Homo sapiens: one gene and its partners. The protein of the gene in region 2 purifies or fractionates together with the protein of the main gene of each other region. This does not show direct contact. Each region holds a gene or a part of one and is shown on either strand. Other genes may lie near its edges. The genes, in order: BRINP1, PARD6G, CDH5, MARK4, RASSF8 and RNF146.

Evidence for each region.
Region 1: the proteins of PARD6G (region 2) and BRINP1 purify together in Homo sapiens (affinity purification with mass spectrometry, with the first as the bait; one large-scale study listed by BioGRID). This does not show direct contact.
Region 3: the proteins of PARD6G (region 2) and CDH5 purify together in Homo sapiens (co-immunoprecipitation; one study listed by IntAct). This does not show direct contact.
Region 4: the proteins of PARD6G (region 2) and MARK4 purify together in Homo sapiens (co-immunoprecipitation; one large-scale study listed by IntAct). This does not show direct contact.
Region 5: the proteins of PARD6G (region 2) and RASSF8 purify together in Homo sapiens (co-immunoprecipitation; one large-scale study listed by IntAct). This does not show direct contact.
Region 6: the proteins of PARD6G (region 2) and RNF146 purify together in Homo sapiens (affinity purification with western blotting; one study listed by BioGRID). This does not show direct contact.

Annotation. Positions count from the first base shown.
Region 1 is NC_000009.12:119,362,705-119,366,945, reverse strand, and holds part of BRINP1 (BMP/retinoic acid-inducible neural-specific protein 1 precursor), read left to right. Parts: intron 1-4,241. UniProt on the Homo sapiens protein: Plays a role in neurogenesis and brain development. May suppress cell cycle progression in postmitotic neurons by inhibiting G1/S transition.
Region 2 is NC_000018.10:80,205,861-80,210,101, reverse strand, and holds part of PARD6G (partitioning defective 6 homolog gamma), read left to right. Parts: intron 1-4,241. UniProt on the Homo sapiens protein: Adapter protein involved in asymmetrical cell division and cell polarization processes. May play a role in the formation of epithelial tight junctions. The PARD6-PARD3 complex links GTP-bound Rho small GTPases to atypical protein kinase C proteins.
Region 3 is NC_000016.10:66,393,673-66,397,913, forward strand, and holds part of CDH5 (cadherin-5 preproprotein), read left to right. Parts: intron 1-2,386; coding exon 2,387-2,529; intron 2,530-4,241. UniProt on the Homo sapiens protein: Cadherins are calcium-dependent cell adhesion proteins. They preferentially interact with themselves in a homophilic manner in connecting cells; cadherins may thus contribute to the sorting of heterogeneous cell types.
Region 4 is NC_000019.10:45,303,109-45,306,363, forward strand, and holds the end of MARK4 (MAP/microtubule affinity-regulating kinase 4), read left to right. Parts: 3' UTR 1-2,176; downstream 2,177-3,255. UniProt on the Homo sapiens protein: Serine/threonine-protein kinase. Phosphorylates the microtubule-associated protein MAPT/TAU. Also phosphorylates the microtubule-associated proteins MAP2 and MAP4.
Region 5 is NC_000012.12:26,070,026-26,074,110, forward strand, and holds the end of RASSF8 (ras association domain-containing protein 8), read left to right. Parts: 3' UTR 1-2,844; downstream 2,845-4,085.
Region 6 is NC_000006.12:127,272,759-127,276,999, forward strand, and holds part of RNF146 (E3 ubiquitin-protein ligase RNF146), read left to right. Parts: intron 1-4,241. UniProt on the Homo sapiens protein: E3 ubiquitin-protein ligase that specifically binds poly-ADP-ribosylated (PARsylated) proteins and mediates their ubiquitination and subsequent degradation. May regulate many important biological processes, such as cell survival and DNA damage response.

The DNA of each region.
Region 1 (4,241 bases), on a different chromosome or scaffold from region 2:
TCATTTTCTCTCTTTCCTAATTCACAGACGATCGAAACTGGAAGGAATATTAAAGAGCAGAAAGGCAGGACTCTGTGGCCTAAAGAGGGAATGAGAATTCCCCAACATTCAGTAGTGGGTTAGTGGCATGCCCAGGACTAGAATCTAGGCTTATCAATCAGCTAGATCAATACCCTTTCCACTCCTCCCAGCAATATACACTCTAGGACTGTATATTGCTCCCACCCCTATCTTGCCAACCTGCCACCATGACCCCTACCAAGACAATCGCTTGTCTTCCCTCATCAAACTTCACATTTTCAGAGATGCATTTCAGGGTTTTTCTATCTGGAAACATGGCCCTGAAGAGAAAAGATCCAATGCCTCAATCACTATTCCCGAAAGACACACACACACACACACACACACACACACACACACACACACACACACACACACACACGGTGGTGGGGGGAGGACTGAGAGAGAGACAGAGAGAGAACATAGATTCCTTCTCCAATGTCTTTAGGGAATTACCGACAAGCAAGGACCCAGTACTGAGTGTGACTGGTAGGCAGAACCCAGCAAAGTGTCTGGTCTGTATCTAAGATTTTTATTAAGGAATGCACTGGTTTCCAGAGAGCAAAATGTACACCCATCTACCAGTGCAAATACTTCAGGCAAATTAATTTCTTTATATTAATTAGAATCTCACCCCTAGACATTAATACATATTACAGGCACAGAAGCATATGCAAGCACACATGCATAGGTGTGCTTATACACACATGTGCACACAAAGATCCAGAAACCTTTCCTGCTTGCTACATTTCCAAAAAAGAGAACCTCCACACCAAATTGTGTTCTCCCATATAAAGCATCTCCCATGTGAAGAGTAGGACCCATAAACTCCAGGGAAGGAGAAATGTAAAGCCCTGTGAAAGAGAGACCCTGGAGAAGTCAGAATCGAGTTCACTCAAAAGCGTGCTCTTAGACTTCTAGATGCCTGTTTCGGGGTGCAGGCAGATACTGAAAAACATGGGGGTTTTAGGCCCATCTGCAATAGAGCCTTTTCCATGCAGGATTTTCCGGGGCTAGATGGCACTTTAGCTCCCAGAAGGGGGAGCTGTGACTCCATTTCAACCAAGGAGAAACAGCTCAGAGATGCCAAATCAGCTCTTGGGCCCCCGTTGAGTTTAGACGACCCAGCTCAGGCTGCAATGAGTATCTTTGCCGCTGGTACAGGCAAGAATTGTAAAAACACCCTCCCCTGATAGGTTCGAATTCAACATCTCTTTCTTAGTGCTTGCAAGAGTTTATGTTATGGATCATAAAGTCCTCTATTTTTCTGAAAAGGTCTTTGCCCAAAGGCCCCTTCAGTTGTGCAAGGAGACATTTTTTGATTTGCAACCTGTCTCTTTTCCCCTCCCAATTCCTTAGAGGAAATCACCAGTACATTATCACTTGAATGGGCCATTAAGGTTAGACATACCCTACCCGTCTTTTCCTGCTTTTCCCTTGCTGAAATACAAAGCTTAACAAATTGGCTGCTGAACTACTGGTAACCATGTTAAAGACAAGATGGAGGTCATGTGAAGAAGACAGGTCCTTAAATGTCATTCTTCAAATAATTTTTCCAGTTGTGCTCCCTTCTGCAAAGATTATCTTTATTATTCTTTCCACCATCTCCCACATTCAGCCACGACTTTTAACAAAATTCCACCCATATTTCAACATCTAGCTCAAATGACCCTTCCAAGAAGTCTTCTCAAGATCTTATTTTGGAATTAATCTCTTTATCACCTGATTTTTCTGTACCATTTTATCTGAAACTCTATTTTAGTTTGTGTCTCTGTTTGCCCTGCTTTATAGCGCTGGGGGTATAGGTCTATCTTACCCTCTTCAGTATGGTCTCAGGAGCATCTTTGTATTCCAGGGACTGACACAGAGTAGTTGCTTTATAAATGTTTGCCCTTGCATTTCCTGTTGCATCTCAATAGCAACTGTCATCTCTCTCTCTGTCTCTCACACTTTCTAGCTAACAATTGCTTCATGTTCATTTAAAGCAATGCCGTTACGGCATTTTTGCCTATACCAAGAATATGGGGATTCCAATGATAATATAGACAGATGAAAATTAGACCCTACCTGGAAGTGAATATTGACTTCCTGTGTTCCAGGGTCTTTAGTTTTGTTCTCTCATGTAGTCGTTCTTTCCACCCAGTGGGACAGATACAGCCCCTTTTACAGAAGAGGAAAGTGAAGCCCAGGTTGGTTAGACTCCTTGATCAAGGTCACACAACCATCACAGCTAGAATTTGAAACTGTCTTCCTTCTTACGTCATCTCTGCTCTTTTCACTGGACCACTGAGTTAATGGTAACTATTATGAATGGTTGGCAACATCGGGTTGTTCAATAGGTGCTAGGAATAGCTGGGAGTTATTATGAGCTCTTTGAAATTGATGGTATGAAGGTGTCATGAGTCACTGGATCAAAGAAAACCTCTGAAGGTTTCTCAATGACCAAACTTTTCTGTTTTCAGGAATGACGAGTCCTTTTTGTAATGCCAATAATACATGACCATTCAGTCTCAGTTTTAGTACTTTTAGTGATAGCAAGTTCATTACCGCACAAACCAGCCTATGTCATATTTGAAGAGCTTTGTTGGAATATTTTCTTACTTTGCCCCTAAATCATCCTTCTATCCATATGTCTCTGAAATCACACAAGTGCAATTCTCTTCCAGTTTTCAGTTCTTCGAATATTATGAAAACATAATTATTTCACAACAGTTTTCTTTCTGAATAGAGGGGATTGTCTTCACAGCCCTGTCTTCTGTAGCATCTGCTTGGAGGCCTCTTGGCACCCTGAATACTGTCCTAGGGAAATTGTCTAGTTTACCTCACTTTTAGGGCTTCGATGCCACCAAAAAAAAAAAAAAAAAAAAGGGAGGGATGACCTGAAATTGAGTGAGGATTTATTCAACAAATATTTATTGGGTGCCTACTGTTTGCCAAACATTGCTGTAGACGAGAGCTGTCAAATAGAACTGTCTGTGATGATGGACATGTTTTTTGTGCTGTCCAATATGGTAGCCACTAACCATGTATGATTGCTGAACACTTGAAATGTGGCCAGTGTTGCTGATGAACTGAATATTTAATTTTATTTAACTTATATTAATTTTTATTTTAATTTACATAGCTATATGTGGCTCATGGCTACTCTATTGAATAGCACAGGTCTGGGCTTTAGAAATGTAGCATGTACATGGCCATGGCCTTGTTTGTTTTCATTAAGTTCACACTCTAGAGGAGCGAGATGAATAATCAATGAGTAAACAAATAGATAAGCAAGATAATTTTATATAATATTAAATGTCACACCACTAGTCGTGGTAATGTGGTAGAAAGGAATGTGGATGGTATAATTTTCGATTGAGTAGCCAGGAGAAGCCTCCTCTGAGAAAGTGATGTTGGAACTGAGGCTTAAATGAGAAGGAATCAGCCATGTAATTTTGTGGGGAAAGAGCATTAGAGGCAGAGAGAAGAATAAAATGGAGTTGGCCAGGCTTGGTGGCTCATGCCTCTAATCAAAGCACTTTAGGAGGCTGAGGTGGGAGGATCGCTTGAGCCCAGGTGTTTGAGACCAGCCTGGGAAACATAACAAGACCCCATTTCTACAACAATAATAATCATCTTTAAAAAAACAGCTGGGCACCTGTAGTCCCAGCTGCTCCGTAGGCCGAGGTTGGAGAATCACTTGAACCTGAGAGGTTGAGGCTGCAGTGATCTGTGATTGCACTACTATACTACAGCTGAGCAAGCAGCAGAGTAAGACCCTGTTTCAAAAAACAAAACAAAACCAAACAAGCCACGGAGTCATTTCACTGGGACAAGCTTAGGAAGTCTAAGAGATGGACTACCTGCCAGTGTGGCTGAAGCTTTCAAATTGGGAACATGACATAAAAGGGAATTAGGAAGGTAGGCAGGGGCAGATCACAATGGCCTGTACAGGAGAGTGAGAAGTTTTGACATCTTTTCCTTGACATCTCTGGTTGGAAGGCAGGTAGTTTGAGGACTAAAGAGAGTTTGAGAATTGACAGAAGGTCATTGTCAAGTACTTTTGATGGGTTTTTATTATGTCCATTTTTAATCAGTAATTTCTACAAGTTTTCTCATTTTAATTTCTACTCCTACTCTGAATGCCATACCCTGGAGATACAACAGTGTAAAGTGAGGAGGAGAAACAAGAGTAGGGG
Region 2 (4,241 bases):
GAGCTGTATGGAACATTACTTTTATCGCAACTGGCTCCAAGGTATTATTCATTCAACAAGCACTTCTCGAGCTCTATCCCTTCTTCTGGAAGGAAAAGGGTCAAAATTATGATAAGAAGTTAGAGTTGGGGGAATAGATAGATATGATTAATAGAGATTGATATGATATAGGTGATAGATGGACATTTCTTATTTTCTATTTATAGTATAATGATGTTATCATTGAATACATTTTAAAGAAAATAAAAATGATTTGCATTTAGAAGCTTTTGATACACTTTGTATTTTTTGAGACAGGGTCTTACTCTGTCATCTAGGCTGGAGTGCAATGGTGCAGTCTCACTTCACTGCAGACTCCACATCCCAGGTTCAAACGATCCTCCTGCCTCTGCCTGCCAAGTGATTGAGACTACAGGCGTGTGCCACCACGCCTGGCTAATTTTTGTACTTTTCTGTAGAGACATGGTTTCCCCATGTTGCCCAGGCTGGTATCAAACTCCTAGAGTCAAACGATCCACCTGCCTTGGCCTCCCAAAGTCCTGGGATTACAGGTGTGAGCCACCACACCTAGCCAGATGCTGATACGCTTTTGCTTATTGATCTTGGTATTTTGTATTTGAGATAATTTTTAATAATTTTAAAAGATGAAATCTCCCCCAACCCCGTTTTTTACTATCCTGTTGTAGGAATAATAGTTGGGGTCAACTACAAAATAGAATAATCATTATCTAAATAATGAATGAGGGTTCATTTAGCTAGAAGCATTGAAGAATAAGAATTTGCACACCTGTGTATTTCCCAATAACAAATAATCTTATTCTTTAAAAATAAACATGGGATTCATAGGCTTACATACATTTCTTGCCATATACCTGGAATTAGCCATTTTGCCTCGGAACCATGGGTCCTTTTAAGGGGAAATGATACAGCTCATAGTGTCAGGGTACTGGTGAGGGAAAGGTGTGTTTTTTTTTTTTGTTTGTTTGTTTGTTTTCTTTTTTCGAGATGGAGTCTCACTCTGTTACTCAAGCTGGAGTGCAGTGGTGCAATCTTGGCTCACTGCACCCTCTGCCTCCTATGTTCAAGCAGTTCTCCTGGAGCACCCTCCCAAGTAGCTGGGACTACAAGCGTGTGCCACCACGCCTGCCTAAGTTTTTCTGTATTTTTAGTAGAGATGGGGTTTCACTATGTTGGCCAGACTGGTCTCGGACTCTCCCTTGGCCTCCCAAAGTGCTGAGATTACAGACATCAGCCATCGCTGGCCAATGTGGACTTTTTGATGGGGTTATCTATTAACTTGCTACTAACCTAGGCCAGGCACAGCAATGCAATCTTTTTTAGGAAATTTGATTTTTTTTTTTAACATAAACAAGGTCTTGCTATGTTGCCCAGGCTGACCTGGAACTCCTGGGCTCAAGTGATCCTCCTGCCTCAGCCTCCAAGTAGCTGGGACTACAGGTGTATACCACCATGCCTGGCTTGAGTATTGATCTTTCATTGAAATTGGTCACTGGTTTGGAGTGAGGAGATGACCTCCCGGGATAGGATGGCTCCCTTTGAGGCATTTTATGTGCGGGATAGTAGGTGAATGAATGAAGCCCAGCAGATGTTGAAGCAGCCGTCCTGTTGTAAGTCCTGCTATACGAACAAACACCCACATGAAAAACAATGAAAATATTAGGGAGTGCCAAGTCTCCTGCTAACCTTTAATGGTGGTTTAGGCATTTTCATAGTGATCCCTGAACTCTGATGTTGTGGTCTTCAAATGTCACATGAAGCCTGAAAGAATTTTGAAAAACTACCACTATAAAAGGGGATGATATATTTTTAAGTTGGTACCTGAATTTTTTTTAGTAAATATAAATAGTTTGCAAAGGATGTAATTTACAGCATGCTGTAAATATTCCATTACAAATAAAGTTTTTGGTGCATGATCTTCTAAATACAGCCAGTGAAATCTAAATGCTGCAGTGATTTGATACAGTGAAATCTAAATGCTGCAGTGATTTGATACAGTGAAATCTAAATGCTGCAGTGATTTGATACAGTGAAATCTAAATGCTGCAGTGATTTGATACCACTATCATGCATTTTAAAATAGGATAAACAGACTCTTATTTTTGCCACTTTTCTGACTCTGAAGAGCTCTTTTCTAATCAGAAATTATACATGGTTTCTTTTTCTCTTTGATTTCTTCTTCCCATTACTCCCTCAAGAGATTTTTGTCCTAATATTTTATTCTAATAACTTATGCTTCGTTACCCCTGTTACTCTTCTCTGCAACAAAAAATATGTATAAATTGAAGTTCAAATATTTTTCTCTTGTGGTCCTGGGGCTCTATTTGTTAAAAATATTTTTAAGTTGTTTACTAGTATAGGGTTCTAGCTTGCAAGATGAAAAGCAATCTAGAGAGTGGGTGCATAACAGTGTGAATGTACACTCCTGAACTGTACACTTAAAAAGAGCTAATATGGTAAATTTTATGTGTGTTTTACCACAATTATAAATGAAATAGATTGTTATAGTAAATTTCTAGATTGAGTTATTAACAAGTATTATCAAATGGTGATTGGAACATAGTTGTGCAATTTGATAATCACTAGCCATCCAAGTAAACATCTGAAGAATCTTTCGTTTACATTAAGTATTTATTGATAATCACTAGCCATCCAAATAAACTTCGGAAGAATCTTTCATTTACTGTTAAGTATTTATTGATAATCACTAGCCATCCAAATAAACATCGGAAGAATCTTTCATTTACTGTTAAGTATTTATTGATAATCACTAGCCATCCAAATAAACATCGGAAGAATCTTTCATTTACTGTTAAGTATTTATTGATAATCACTAGCCATCCAAATAAACATCTGAAGAATCTTTCATTTACTGTTAAGTATTTATTGATAATCACTAGCCATCCAAGTAAACATCGGAAGAATCTTTCATTTACTGTTAAGTATTTATTGATAATCACTAGCCATCCAAATAAACATCGGAAGAATCTTTCATTTACTGTTAAGTATTTATTGATAATCACTAGCCATCCAAATAAACATCGGAAGAATCTTTCATTTACTGTTAAGTCTTTATTGATAATCACTAGCCATCCAAATAAACATCTGAAGAATCTTTCATTTACTGTTAAGTATTTATTGATAATCACTAGCCATCCAAGTAAACATCTGAAGAATCTTTCATTTACGTTAAGTATTTATTGATAATCACTAGCCATCCAAATAAACATCTGAAGAATCTTTCATTTACTGTTAAGTATTTATTGATAATCACTAGCCATCCAAATAAACATTTGAAGAATCTTTCATTTACTGTTAAGTATTTATTGATAAATGAGGTAGGCTGGCACTAATTGTTTTGCAATTTTTATTGTTGGGTGTCAACACTGTGAAGCTTCATTTGCACACTCAGGTAGATGAGAGTGAAGGCCCCTAAGCACAGCTCAGTTCTTTGAACTCTCAACAGGTTGTGTGACAAAAATAATAGGGTGGTCTCTCAAAATTATTTTGATAATTAGCTGACAGTTCAGTTAGGACAACTTTATATTTTGTCAAAAGCAAGTAATTGGAAACTACTTGACTTGCAAGGTTTATTGCCTGGTCATTAGAGCCATTCACTGTTTCAGTTTCTGGTAAGTATACTGGAAGGACTTTACCAAGAAGTATGTGACAATGAATTATACCTGCTAATTCCTTCATTTAGAGGACTCTTGTTTAATCTGATATCATGGGGAAATAAAAATATTTAGTACCCAATACCAATATGATTTTTAAATACAATGCTTTTGTCATGTCACATTTCACATCTCTTTTTGTCAAAACTTTGGAGCTCATTCAACATATGAAGCATGTTTACCATATAGCTGGGTTGGCAAAGTCAGCCTCATCATTAAACACAAATCAACCTTGTTTTCTCTCAGGAAACAGTCTGAATTTATTTTTCATTTCAAGTTAACATGCTAAGACATATTTTGAGAAAATTATTGAACGTACTGAGAAACTGAGATGTGTTTTAGGTTAGTTGCTAAATAAAGTTAAGACTGAAACATTGTAGAACTAACATTTAGCCTATGCTGTTTCAGGGAGGCCTGGCGTTCCTGAGGTGAAAGTGAGCTGTATCCCTTTGCGGTGATACTGAAGTGAGAATTATATAAAATTCAAAAACACTCTTACTAGTTGCATTAGACATGATTAAATTATCTTATGTATTCAGTTAAACGAAA
Region 3 (4,241 bases), on a different chromosome or scaffold from region 2:
CTTTACACTAGATCTTAGATATACATAAAAGTCCTTCCCATGTTGCTTTTTTATTTGATATAATTTTTTGTCAACTCTCATTTTTTCTTTTGTGAAATTTAAAATTTTGTATCCAGGTTTTTTAAACATTAGAATTCTAGTGTTTATATATTAATTTTGGTATAGCTAATGTTTCAAGGGTATTAAGTCTTCTTATTAAGGACAAAATATGTTCTTCCATTTTGGCCTCATATCCTAAGTTTTGGGACTACTCTTCATTGCCATTCTTTTCTAAATAGCCTGTAATTATAATTTTTGTTTCTCCTTTGATCCAAGGGTTTATTTAAGAGATTGACTTGATTTCTTTATTTTCATTTATAAGTCATAGGGTGTTTTTTTTGTTTTGCTTTAGCTTGTTCTGTGATGTGATACAATTGTATTTGTGTCCACTTCTTCCTAGAATATCTAAGTTTTGACTTTATGTATTTAAATTTTTCTATTCAGTTAACAAAGGTTTGCAACTATTTTACCTTCATTATGGTTTGTAACTTTCATCCAAATGTAATTAGCCAATTTGTTCTGCTTAAATATTTTGCCTTTAATTCTGTTTCCTGATGTTACATTTGTTAGTCCTGTTTTCATGTTATTCATATACGCCTAATGCAAATTTTACAACCTTTACTTTTAATTTTTCCAGGTCATTTGGCATTAAGTTGTCTCTTGAAAACAAGAATGCATTTGGCTTTGCTTTTTAATCTAAACTGAAATGCTTTGTGTTTAACCTATTTACATTTTTCATCATAATTGATATGTTTGATGTTCCTTCTTTTATCTTGTTTTACATTTCTCATTTATCAAATTTAATGGCTTTTTTCTTTTTCCTCATCTTTGCTATACAGTCTATGTTTCTTTATTTTTTTTTTCTCCTAGATATTTGGATGAGGTGCATCCATTTTTATTTCTACCAGTGAGATTTACTTCTATCTGCAAAATTTAAAATGTTTTCTTGGACCTATATTTTCTAGTTAAAACTATTATAGACATACACACACCCATTGCTTTTCTATGTATGATAAAAAAAATCAATAGTTTTGTTTTAATTCTTCCCATGCCAGGTTTTTACTTTATATTGAGATGTTTAGTTAGATACAGTAAGTTTTCAAAAAAAAATTCAGGACACAAATATCTTAGTTCTTTGCCTTTTTTGGGGGGTGGGGGGGACAGGTTCTTCCTCTGTCACCCAGGCTAGAGTGCAGTGGCACAACCATAGCTCACTACAGCCTTGAACATCTAGGCTGAAGCAACCCTCCCACCTCAGCCTCTGAGTATCTGGGACTACAGGCACACACCACCACACCAGGCTAATCTTTTTTTTTTTTTTTTTTTTTTTTTTTTTTTTTTTTTTTTTTTTTGGTGAGACAGGGTCTCACTCTGTCACCTGGGCTGGGCTGGTCTTGAACTCCTGGCCTCAAGCAAACCTCCAGCTTCAGCCTCTCCCAAAGCACTCAAATTACAGATGTGAGCCACCATGCCCAACCTTGCCTTCTAATAACACCTAGATGTATTCGTATAATCCTCAGATTATAAACACTTCCCTTCAAAAATACTATCAATGTATTCTAGTATTTAATTTTGTGGGGGCATCTGAGGCAAATCTGATTTTTCTTTCCTCATAAGGAAATTATTTCTTTCTGTCTGGACTCTTTTCAGTTTCTTCACACAGCCTTGAAATTCGTAAGTGTCGTCAGGATTTGCCTAAGTATTGGGGTTTTTTTCAATGATGCCTGATGTCAATGACATCTTATAATGTGTAGACTCAAGCCTTTCTTCAGATCAGGAAACTTTTCTTTTCTTTTTTTTTTTTTTTTTTTTTGTTATTTCTTCTGTTCTGTTTGTTCTGGGATTTTCCTCATTAATAGCAACTATTATTCCTATATACACAAAACATATATATTTATCTTTCCATAGATTTTTCCTGATTTCTGAAAGAACTTTTTAAGTTTTTTATTTCACAAAGTTAATTTCTTTGTAATTACTTCTTATCTCTTCCAGCTCTTTTTGTATTCCTTCCTGGCTCTTGCCCAATGATCTTTTCATTAATCACTAAAACAAGTCCCAGCTATGGTGTGATGTCACCTGTTCAGCTCTGAAAGTGCATCTGATGGTCTCAGGTACCACCTCCAGTCCAGTGATGGCAATGTAACTAAGATCAAAGACATTATCTTGCTATCCTGAATCCCTCTGTGTAGGTCCACTCTTGTCTGAGTGGCAGAGTGCAATGAGCAGTGAGAGAGGGGCATGGAGTGGGATGCAGGGGACAGATGCAGAAGGGCCTTGTCCATCATGCTGAGGAGTGTAGACTCAGCAAAGAACAATGGAAAGCCATGAAACTCTCTCCCCTGGGCAGATACTCCATCCGCAGGACCAGTGACAAGGGCCAGTTCTTCCGAGTCACAAAAAAGGGGGACATTTACAATGAGAAAGAACTGGACAGAGAAGTCTACCCCTGGTATAACCTGACTGTGGAGGCCAAAGAACTGGATTCCACTGGTGAGTGGCCACATCTGCCAGGGCACCTGGATTCTTTTCCTTTTCCCTCATTCTTCCAAAACTGGCATAATCAATAATTTGGGGTCTCTAGACGTATTAGAAGTGCCTGCTGAAGCACCCGCTGGTTGGGATGCTATAGAGCTCCCATGCCCAAGTGTGGTCCTTGAACCCAGCAGTATCAACATCCCCTGAGACCTTGTTGCATCTCGGGCCTCACCCCCACACTGAATCGGAATCTCATGCATGTCACAGTTTGAAAACCACTGTCATGAAACAGGCTGTGCAGATGTCTCTGTGACGAGAATCACCCAAGTCACCTATTAAGCATAAAGCTCTACTCCACCCTGCAGGTTCTGGTCCAGTGAGCCAGAGATGTGCATTTAACAAGGGTCCCATGATTCTTAGTTATCATGGCTGTTTGGGAAATGTTCCTTCAGAGGGTGTTTATGCACCAGTTAATAGGTAGAATTCAAAATGTGAAGCAGCTTCCAATTTTGAGATTGTGAGTTTCTCTAGAAATTGTGTAATTTTTGCCAGAGGGAGGGGCAAGAGTTGGAGTTTTGCATCCTCTATCTATATTAGAAAATCACAATCACCCTCCAGGAGAACTATTAATACTCCCACTTTACCCAGGAGCCCGCTAGGCCAAGGATCCCTGGCGCCTGCCGGGCCCACCCAGACTCACTTCTGCCAACACAGCTGCTGCCCCAAACTGTAATGGACTCCTGCATGTTTGGCCAGATCAGTCTTTGCTTCTTTCTCCTCCACATAATCCCATTCATAGACTCTTTACATTTAAATGGTTTAAAATACGGAAAATACAGAAAATGAGAAGAAAATACTCCTCCCACCAATGCCACCATGCAGAGACAGTTACTATTAGCACATTCATGTATTTTTATTTTTATACATATTTTTATACTTACATGAGATTGTAATGTTTGTGTAAGATATTATATTCCACATTTTTACTTAACCTTTACTTAACCTTATTCCAGAACCACTTTCTCATGGTACTAATTTTTTTTTTAAGAGAGAAACAGGGTCTCACTCTGTTGTCCAGGATGAAGTGCAGTGGCACGATCACAGCTCACTGCAGCCTCTAATTCCTGAGTTCAAATGATCCTCCCACCTCAGCCTCCTGAGCAGCTGGGACTACAGGCGTGCACCACATTGCCCAGCAAATGTCTTAATTTTTTTTGTAGAGATGGGGTCTCACCATGTTTCCCAGGCTTGTCTCCAACTCTGGGCCCCAAGCAATCCTCCCTTCTAGGCCTTTCAAAGTATGAAATTACAGGGGTGAGCCACAGCACCTGGCCTTAAAATTTTTTTTAATTATATGTTTAAGATGTAAGTGACATAGGCATTGTCAGTGGCCATCCATTTCAGTCTTTTCCGGTAGCCTAGTTTACTGACCCAATCTCACTTAGGTTGTTTACCTTTTCAATTCTTTTATGATTAATTTATTATGTTTTATGTATTTAATCAAATAATTAAATTTTTAATTTTAGGAATTTAATTACAATTTTTTTAATGCACTTAGGTGGTTTACCTTTTTGATTCTCATAATCAAAGTAATACCTCAGTAAACCTTATGGATGAGATTTAACACCTCCCCCCACCAAACTCCTTTTATCCAGAACACCATCCTGGGCCTCTGTTCCACAGCCTCCTCCTGCAAAAAGTGGCCTCCATAGGGCAGCCCTCCTTCC
Region 4 (3,255 bases), on a different chromosome or scaffold from region 2:
ACTGGGAGTGGGGGTCAGAGAGGCAGATTCCTTCCCCTCCCGTCCCCTCACGCTCAAACCCCCACTTCCTGCCCCAGGCTGGCGCGGGGCACTTTGTACAAATCCTTGTAAATACCCCACACCCTCCCCTCTGCAAAGGTCTCTTGAGGAGCTGCCGCTGTCACCTACGGTTTTTAAGTTATTACACCCCGACCCTCCTCCTGTCAGCCCCCTCACCTGCAGCCTGTTGCCCAATAAATTTAAGAGAGTCCCCCCCTCCCCAATGCTGACCCTAGGATTTTCCTTCCCTGCCCTCACCTGCAAATGAGTTAAAGAAGAGGCGTGGGAATCCAGGCAGTGGTTTTTCCTTTCGGAGCCTCGGTTTTCTCATCTGCAGAATGGGAGCGGTGGGGGTGGGAAGGTAAGGATGGTCGTGGAAGAAGGCAGGATGGAACTCGGCCTCATCCCCGAGGCCCCAGTTCCTATATCGGGCCCCCCATTCATCCACTCACACTCCCAGCCACCATGTTACACTGGACTCTAAGCCACTTCTTACTCCAGTAGTAAATTTATTCAATAAACAATCATTGACCCATGCCTACTCCATGCCAGGCCCAGTGCTGGACACAGAGACATGAAGCTCTGTCTGTGGGAGACAGGGATTCTGACACAGACACCGGACAAACCATTGTCTTGGGGAGCCCAGAAGAGAAAGTGGGCAGGGTGGGGTCATTGGGGAAGATGCTCTAGAGGAATTAATGCTGGAATGGGGTGTTGAAGGATGAGTAGGAGTTAGTTAGGCATTGAGTTTGCCCTGGGCAAAAGCCCAGAAGTGGGAGTATGTGGTATATCTTCAGAGAACTGGGTAATTTCAGTGTGGCTGCTGTGTTGGGCATGGATGGAGAATCAGCAAGAGAAATGCTGTATTAGGACTAATAATCCATCTACGCTGCTTAAGCAAAAAGGTATTTGTTGGTTTATGTTACTTAATAGTCCAGGGGCACCTGGCTTCAGGTAGGTTTGATCCAGGCATCAGGCCATTGCATCTATTTTTTCAGTGTAAGTTGAATTCTAGTAATTTTTATCAAGTAAGGGCTCCTTTCCTGGTGGCACAGATGACTTCAGCAGTTAGAAGTTTCTATCCCTCCAGCTTTCTGCAGCAGAAAGACCCTCATTGTCAGTTTCCCAGCAAAAGTCCCAGGGCAGACTCTCATTGGCCCAAATGGGCCATGTGATTTTCTCTAAACCAATCACTGTGACTCTAGAGTGGCCAGACTCAGAGCTGCACTTAGTAGGGGTTCCTCAAAGGAAGGTCAAGTGTCATGAGCAGGAGAAAAGGCATGGGAGCTGGACAGATTATAGTGGTTGAAGTCTGTGCAGTACAGAAGGGCGGAGCTTATTCACACAGCACCTTTGGGGCCAAAATGAATAAGCTGGACTTTCTCCCCATGGCACTGGGGAACCATGGAAGTTCAGGGAACTTCAGGGAAGAGGCTTGGTCAATTCCTGAGAGCATCCTCTGTGCTGGGGACACAGTGGTAATCAAGACAGCCCCAACACTGCCCTCATAGAGCTCACAGTCCAATGGAGGAGGCAGATGTGTCCTCAGGCAGCGACTGGGCAGGGCTGGTATAGGGGAGTCCAGAGGTGATGCCTGCCTCAGCCAGGGAGGGCTTCCTGGAGGAGAAGGAGCCAGCTAGACATGGATAGGAGTGCGTTTTAGGCACAGCAAATGGCACATACAAGGGCCAGGGAGCAAGAGAGAGGACAGGTCCTCAACAAATGGCATGTGACTTTGTAAGTGTAGAATTGCTGTGAGGTATGGGGCTAGGGGCGTCAGTAGGGCCTTGAAGGTTATGGACAGGGGCCTGGGCTTTCTTCCAAGGGCACTGGGGGAGCCATGGCAAGGTTGTAGGTAGGGTAGAGATGGGCGGGTTTGTGCTATGTGCAGGGTGGAAGGGAGGGAAGTTGACAGGTCAGAAGATCAGGAAAGAGGTCGGGGCTGGACAGATGGGGAGAGCGCAGATAGATTTAAGAGAGTCCTGTGAGGCAAAGTGGGCAGGACCTGGTAACAGGTGTCTGGACTGTGGCTTTGGCTGGCTCAGAAGGTCCCCACTGGCGTGTGTGGTCTATGTAGCCTCTGGGTGTGGAGCTGGGATCTTCAACTGGGGACAGTACAGTAAAGAACATCACAGCATCTCACAGGTTCTGCATACCTTAATGTTTAGAATCTCTCCTAACCTTCCTTGTAGTAATCTCCCTGGGAACTTTTGGGGACATCCCTAGGCCTCAATTTCCCCTCTGTAAAACAGAGGGCAGATTGAACTACAAGGGCCCTTAATCTCTGTGACTCTTGAGGTTTGAAAAAGCACCTTAGGTTCCTGAGGGCTTTGTCGGTTCTTCCATTTACTCCCACCTCACTTTTTTTTTTCCCTAAAACGTTTGTCTTTTGGGGCCCACCGACTGTGTCCTTGTTAACGTAGACATTGGCCTGTTTGACTGGGTGGAGGTGATTGACGTGCCCAACACCCAATGCATGTTCAGCTACTGCTTGACTTCTATTAACTCTTCTCCCTCCACCAATTGCTCTACCACACCTCTTTCCTGTTCCTTCCTGGGACTGAGTTCTCCAAAAGGCCTATCCCTAAAGACTTCATGGGGATGCTCAGACTCACAGATTGGAGAGGGAAACAGCTTGGTCAAAGACATTGAGGTGGGAATTGGAGGGTGTCAGGTGTGAAAGAATCAGAGGAGTAATGGGGAAAGAACTGGAAAGGTGAGCCTCCAGCAAATGGTATGCATTTCAGTGTGGCCTTGAGTTGCAAAATAACAGAAAAGCTTTCTAGGAGAAATGGGGAGCCATGGCAGGTTCTTGAGAAAGTAAGGGACTGGCAGCAGCTACAGAGGGATGAAGTCAGACGGGACAGAAGGAGGCCACTGAGAAGCAGAATATAGGTAGATGTGACGAGCTGCATGGGAGGTCTCAAAACTGGAGACCGTTGGGCTAAATTCAAGTTTCAGACATTTCGTTTGGCTGCATTCCTCCCCAGCGTGGACCTCGTGTTTGAGATCTGAGCATGACTAATTCAAAGCCATAGTTGGAAAGGGCCCATGCTTTGGGTGAGTGACACTGGGCTCAGTGTCTCTCTGGGTCTCAGATTCCCCATAGAGCCTTCTAATTTTTGGACTAGATTCTGTGACCTAACTTTGCCTCATTTTAGACCCGGGATAAGACATGTTTAGTACATGCCTAGACAGGACAAACCACTCTGAGAC
Region 5 (4,085 bases), on a different chromosome or scaffold from region 2:
TAGTGACTTAACTAAGATTTACAAGTAATATTTAGACAGATTCAGTCAGACACCACTTAGCCATTTTTACATTCCCTCTGGTTAGATTTGGTACAGTATAATTAAGACTTTAATCTGAAATTTAAAGTAGTTTTAATTCTGAAGAAGTTACATCCTCTGTATTATTTACATGCAACAAAATAAAAGTGGATTAATATAGTAATGCCATGGTAACAATAGAGCTATGTCTTATGCATGAAGGCAACTTTGGATGTTTTAACACATTTGACTGACTTTGGTTTAGTGAATGCTGACAATGCTGCTCTACTTAGGTTTCCTATGAAATTTTTAAGAATGGCTATGAGACTGTATAGAAGCTTCTAGAGAACTGAAAGTCATAATGCAGAGTTGCCTTTTCTAGTGCAGCTAAGTGGCGGACCTCAACTGAAGATATGAGTTTCTTTGGGTTCTTGGAGTTATCAAATTGATCTTGCCATTATGTTACTTTGCAAATAACTGAAGTAAATGATTCTTACCTAAATAACCACAACCTGTACACATTTGCTCACAATTTATAGTAGTTATTTTCTATCTACCTATATTTAAAATTAGGATGATTAAAAAATAATTTATAGATTTTGTGACAGTAATGATTTACATATGCCCAATATATGCCTTATTTTTAAATAAGTCATTCTGTATAAAGTCATTTTGTTGTTGTTCAGAGAAATCAAGATCTTATTCACAAAGAAAAACATTTTATAAATTGATCGCATTTTCTTTAAGTCAAAATGTTAAACTGGAGGCAGTATTAAACTTTGCAATTAGGAGTTTCAGAGATGCCTTGGCATACCACGAAAAACACTGTCAATATCCAACTCATTATAAATTGTTATCAGAATTAACCTAATAACTTTAAGTAAGGACAAGCAGCATCCTAGCAACTTGTAGTAGTCTTGGGTTCCCAGCAGAGTATCACAGTTAACCTCTCTGACAACTTCATCAGAATTTCCAAGCTGCCAAATAATCTTCATAGACCTAATTACAGATTTAAAAAAATTTCCTAGGCGACGAAAGTATAGAAATGTGAATATGTTGAATACATTGAGAAGCTGTACTTTTTAATTAGTTATATTACTTCTGGAAGCACATATCTAAGGAATATTTTCTAAGACTCAGAGGGAAAAAAACTCGTTTTCATAGGATCATCTGAAGATACTTTAGTATATTTGTGATCATTTTTATCTATTGCAAATACAAATGAATTAGATAAGTGCCACATCCTGGATACATTTCGGAGGGGTAGTGGGCAATGGTATACAAAAATACCAAATATAAAATTTTCATCTGGGGGAATGTTCAGGTTCTAAATACTAAATTAGATTTCAATGTTTTGTGTTTTTTTTAAAAAAATCATATTGCAACTTGTTTTATTGTGATTTTCTACAAGTATTAAATACATTTAAAGATCTTTTTATCTTACCAAGAAATAATTTGGAATAGCATTGGTATATTTGACCTTTTGAGTGTCTGTCATCCTCAGAGAATGGCCCATAGTGTGTTGCCTGTGGACATAGTGTCCATAGTCCCTTTCTTGTCCTTCTGAGATATTTTGGTTTGATAACATTTTGTTTTTTGTCTTGATGCACAGGGACTTTTTTATAATATGAGACTTCAGTTGGTATTAATAGGAGTTACCTATTTAATTCTCCCAGTCATCAATGAGGTAATCATCAATTCCTATAGTTCAAATTAGTCATAAACAAGAGCTACAGCAAGACTGATAGAGTAAAAACTATATAAATACAGTAAAAAAAAAATAGAATTTATGGTGTGAAATATGAAGTATAGCAATATATAACAAGAACATGTAAGCACTTGCTTCCACAGCATAAATGTAATTTACATCTGCATTAAAGGATAATTTTCTCTGTGAATAAGAGCAAAATGGTCTTCAGAGAAACAGACTGTTCATTTGAAGCCATTTCTGTAAACATCTTCCAAGATAGAACTGTAATGGATTGAGGAAATAACACAGAAAAGACAAAAACTTTTGATTTCAGGCATGCAAAGTGCTTGGGCAGATGGACAGTTCCCATTGTGCATTGCCTTTGATAAATTTGGCCTTAATTTATATAACGATGCTGTGTTCACATCCCTCTCCTACCTAAAGTTGTCTTTATTGGTTTATATTGTGTTAAAATTAGCTTATAATTATTACTTTTGTATTGTGTTCAGTTTTTTAAGTTGCATGTTTATACTATTTGCTACAGTATTTTTAAGTTTGGGGTGAAGGCCATCAGCTGTATCAAAAAGACAAAACAATCACTATTTATTCAGTATTGCTGCTTTACATCTCCAGAATAAGCTTTCGATGCCAGGACAGTGACTGCCTGAAAGCTGCAGGAGCTCTTTTCAATGCATTTTATATATTTTTAGAAACCAAATAAATGCAGAAAACTATTTCGTATACTAATTATATTAAACCAGCAGAAATATAAAGGCAATAAAGTATATACATATATATGGGGGGAGGGGAAAGATTAAAAAATAGATTTACAGCCAGACATGGTGATAGCCCTAAATGTATTTCTCAATATGTTTTTCTTTATTGACCCTAGGAGGATTTGAGTTGCTGCAGCTTTAAACAGAAAATTGCCATGTTCACTAATTGTGAGCACATAAATATGCTTTTAGTACTGCTTTGCTTATGTACAAATAAATCTGTAATATGTATTATATGTAATTATCCTTTTCTTTGACTTTCATTTTAAATGTATATTTTCTGATCATTATGAGCTGTAAAACAAAGAATCAATATTGGATATTCTCCCAAATAATAAATTTTCAGGATTCATTGGGGCATTACAGTTGTCAGTTTGTTTCTTACATCCTTTATATTTTTAAATACAATTTTACTTCCTTTAAAAGATACCAAAGAGAATAGTGGCACATATCACTACACATAATTACATTTTTCATATATACTTAAAGAATCATCTACTGCTCCAAAGATGGCTTCATCAAAGTAAAACTGAATTAAGAAACTACTATGCCTTTTATTTCAAAAGTGAAAGAAGAAATGATATCTTAATGAATCTCTGTATTCCCAGATTTCCCTAAAACCATAAGTGAGAGGAAGAGAACTAACATTTCAGTCCCTACTACGTGCCAAGTGCAATATGGGGCACCGGTCACACTTTAAACATTCACAGCCATCCAAGGAACTGCTCCTAAATCACACAACCCCTAAGTAACTGACATAGCATTTGAACTTAGATGTTTCAGACCTCAAGGCACTTTTCTGTATTCCATGGTAGAGATGCATGAGCTTTACGGTGCCCAGTTTCTGCATTTTAACCACTTTTTAATGTGGAAGTATATAAATTGTCATTTTTATAGGAATATTTTTATAAGAAGTTAAACCTTTACTTAGAAATTATACATGAGGGCCGGGCGCAGTGGCTCACGCCTATAATCCCAGCACTTTGGGAGGCCAAGGTGGGCAGATGACTTGAGGTCAGGAGTTCGAGACCAGCCTGGCCAACGTGGCGAAACCCCGTCTGTACGAAAAGTAAAAACAAAATAGCTGGGCGTGGTGGCGGGCACCTGTAGTCCCAGCTACTCAGGAGGCTGAGGTGGGAGAACCACTTGAACCCGGGAGGCGGAGGTTGGAGTGAGCCGAGATCGCACCACTGCATTCCAGCCTGAACAACAAAAGCGAGACTCTCTCTCTCTCTCTATACACACACACACACACACACACACACACATATATATATACACATTATGTATACACACACATATATATACACATACACACACACACACACACACACACACACATATATATATATTTAGCCAAAGTAGTATTTATTGAGCCAAAGTAAATTTCCTAGTAATTTCAACTTTCTTTAGGGCCACATAGAAGAAACAATTTCCCATCTATATATATAGAGAGAGAGAGAGAGTCTCACTCTAAAAAAAAAGTATATATATGAGAATAATAGTACGTTATAAAAGCAAAGATGAAATGAGAAACTTAAAGTCATTCAAAATACCAATAAGTCCTAGTTTGGGGGACTTTTAAAATGTTAATTATCCAC
Region 6 (4,241 bases), on a different chromosome or scaffold from region 2:
AGGGTGCCAACCCCTTGCACAATTGAAAATCTGAGTATAAGTTTTGACTTCCCCAAAATTTAACTACTAATAGCCTACTGTAAAGTCAGTTAACACGTTGTTTGTTATATGCATTACATACTATATTCTTACAATAAGCTAAAGGAAAATAAATTCCTAAGGAAGAAAAAATACATTTACAGTACTGCATTTACCGATACTGTGTTTATGTTACCTGTTTATAAGGTGTCTGTCTGAAATGATGGGTAACTGCAGCTGCAGACCCATCTAGGGTGTGTACCAGGTAATTTAACTTCTTGTAATGGCATGACTTCTTGGCTTCTTGGGAGCACTTCTAGCATCACTAGTGGCACTTCACATGGGTCCCATGGTGTTATTCAAGGTTTATGGTATTGTACTAAACATGATGAAAAATACACAAGAACAAGAGATTACATTTTACTCCAATACATGCAGAGATGATTAGTGTCCACAGCATTTTAAGTGGAAATTCATAATAGCAACAGGAAATTATTACAGTATGTACTACAATTAATTTTATACAGCTATGATTCATACTGCATCTTTACATTTGTTTAAATTTCTTGTACCACCTCAAGTGGCACCATATGTGTCTGTGTTTACTAAGTTTTGATACACTTTAACTTCTTATAATTTCTCTATATTTTATAATACTAAATGATAAAATAGACTATATATGTTTTATGCATTCATAATATACCTAATTTTTTCTTTTCCTTTTTTTGATGTTTCAAGACTACATGATTCATCTGCAAGTTTTTTCAAATTGTCACAAATCTCCAAAAAAATTTCCAACATATTTATTGAAAAAACTGTATGTATATAAGTCAACTTGTTCATTTCCAACCTGTGTTGTTGAAAGGTCAGCTGTATGAGGTTATCGTCAAAGATCTTTAAAGAAAGAAATGACATCATCAATATTTTGAAAATTAGAGAAAGCCATTTCTAAAGGAATCCTAGAAATGACTTCAGGCCAGAATTAGAAAAAAAAAAATTGAAGAAATAGGCTAAATAAATATGTCTTTGGCTGTGTTCTTTTGAAAATGGCATTAATGTATAGAAAGATACTCGAATGTGAGTTATGGTCACTGATACATTCTTTTGTTTACTGCTGAACATAACTGGACTAGAGGAGTGTAATGAGGGCAAGGATGTTCTTTCTGTTGAAGGAGAAAGTTTATATTGATGGAAAGTCATTATTCATAGATACTTTGCTGTTATTTCAGTACTATTAAGTAAATAGTTCTCTGCTCCTGGGTTTGTGTGTGTGTGTGTTTTCTTTATAAGGGGCTTTTTCAAATAATTTTGCTATTGATAAGTTACTTGAATTTAATCATTAGTCTTCAAATAAGGAAAGCAGAATGAGAGAATGCATCTCCTTGAATTAACCAGATTTTTTTTTAGTACCTTTGTTCTAGTGGATATGTAGCAAAGCTTTTACTTTAATATTTGTGGCTATAGCTTTATTTCAGCTATGTGAAATAGTTTTATAGGAAAGATCACAGCTTATTTGGGTGTTCAAATATGGGTTCTTTAGAGGATTTTTTTGTACTTATTTTGAAGCTGCTTTGTTTCAGTTAACTTAGATTCCTTTAAGAATCAACTTTTGTTTCAGAGATAAAATATTTATGGATAAGACCTAAGTAAAGTAAGTGAATAGAGAGGAATAAATTAGATTGGTTACAGATAATGTGTAAATGCATTCAGGAGATAAGGAGAATTAGAAACAAGGACATTTTTTGTGTATTTCTTAGGAATAAAATGGTACCTTCTACACATCTCAATTATTAAAGTACAAATAGTGATTGAACGAAATTTTTAGAAGAAATGTTTTAATTGAATCTTCACACTAGAGGTTTTACCATTCAATCAATTAGGTTCTGAGAAGGATGGATTGGTACATCTTAAAAGACTTGTAAGATAGCGAAGGATAGGCAGTGCTAATGACCAACAGCAACACTCAGCAGGACTTTGTGGACCAAAAAACTTCAAGTTAGAATTGTGGGTAAAGGCTGGGCATGGTGGCCCTCACCTGTAATCCCAACACTTTGGGAGCCTGTGGTAGGAGCATCACATGAGGCCAGGAGTTTGAGGTTTAAGTTACCTGCAGTCATACCACTGGACTCCTGCCTGGTTAACAGACGCTGTCTCTTAAAACAAAACAAAACAAAAGAATTGTGGGTAAAGTAAGAGCAAATTGACTTTTGAGTGATGGTCCGAAAACCTTTGTGATGGGTAAAGGGTAGAATGTCTGTATAATTTTTCTGAACTGGAACACTTGTTGGGAGACCAAGGGCAAACTGGATAGATGCTGGGCTGACCTATGTGGTCATCCTAGTGAAGAATCATAAGCTTTATTGGGGAAAGAGCTTTGTGAAGCTGTTTTGGCTGTTCAGAAACCCATCTTGGTTTATGCTTAGATTTTTATCTCCATTTTGGAGAATTCATTGACAATGAACAATAGCTGGGTAAATGATTTGCTTGCCAAAAGATACAAAGATGGGTTGAATTTTATATTTGTAAATGTAGGAACTCCTTTAGATTTTAAGTTATATAAAGCAAGGATTAGAACTTAGATATTTTTATGTATCTTACAGATTCCAGCTTGAGTTCACAATTAGAACTCAAGTGTTGTGTTATTTGAATAAATCTAATCCTTTGATATTCTGTTCCTCACAATAGTTACTTTTAGGAGTTGATTTTTCATTCATCCAAAAAATATCAGTTCAACAAAAATTGATTGACAATTTACTAGCTATTTAAAGATATAAAAATCTCCCTATCTTCAGGGGATTCATGATTTCACAGAAGAGTCAGACTTCACAAATGAATTGAAATTAGTGCATGTGATAAATTCCGTAATAGAAAAACATACAAAACATAGAGGAGAGAACAGTTAACTTTCTGGAGGTAGTCAGAGAAAATGGTAGAGATAACCATTTCTGTGTAATATATTAAAGAACAAATAGGCATTCATAAGCTGTAAAAGGGAATAGATCGTACCAGGCAGGAGGAAATACAGAGCTACAAAGGGAGGTTTGCAGGACTATGAGTAATTTTATACAACTAGATTATTAATCTATGGGTGGTTGTTGAAGATAAAAAAGACTAGAGACTAATTATTTACAGTTTAGATCTTTAAAACCTTTTAATGTTGTCCTAAGGAGCTTTGTCTTTATTGTGTAGGCTGAGGACCCAATATTGTGCTTCACATATGGAAGAAACCTGGTCCATTTTGCCTTTTAAATATATCAGTCAGTCCTAGCTACTTGGGAGGCTGAGATGGGAGGATCGCTTGAGCCAAGCAGTTTGAGGTTTTAGTGAGCTATGATCATGCCACAGCATTCTAGCCTGGGAAACAGACTGTAGAGTGAGTGTATGTGTGTGTGTGTGAGAGAGTGAGAGAGAGAGAATCTCACTCAAAGGCTTAATAAATGAGGGTGATACTGACACAAGATAATCAGGCTGAACAATAGTCCAGGTGAGAGTTATGTAGGTTTAAACTAGGGCACTAGCAATGGGTAGAGAGTACAGGATAGATTCCAAAGGGATTAGGAATAAAAGTTGACAGAATTTATGGTGTGGTTGGTTGGGGTGGGGGAGCAGGGGGCTGTGTGGTGAGAGAAAGGACTTTCTCTTTTTCTCCATGAACACAAAGTAGTTAAGACATGAAACCTGAGATGTCATATTGTAAGAATTATGCAGAAATGGGGGTTTGTAAAATGTGTGTATATGAGATAAAGATATGAGGGGGCCAAGGGTTCTGTTAAGAAGTAAAAAAGATTGGGTTCCAGAATGGGCAGGAAAGGAAATGAGATCAGGAACTGGATAAAGGAAAGGAGATGGTCAAGAGATGGTAGGTCCCCATGAAATTGAAGAGCAGGTGTGGGAATGAGTAGGCTGGAAGAACCAGAGCTTGTGATCTGAGAGTCGGATTAAGATTTCAGAGAGGCAGCAGTTTAGGTGACAACTAGCTTTAAATGTGATTATAATATTTGGTTGCTGGAGAGTAGATTAATTTCTTCAAATTTAGGATTTAAGGAACTGAAAATTGAGGATGGTGTTTCTCAGATTGTATTTGAAGGACTAAAGCATGAGTACCACCTGGGGTGAGATTCCTAGGTTTAAACCTATGTCTACTGGCCTAGAATTTCTAAGGAAAGGGGCTGAGAATATGTATTTCTAACAAGCAATTTCAGTGATTCTGATGAATAGAAGTT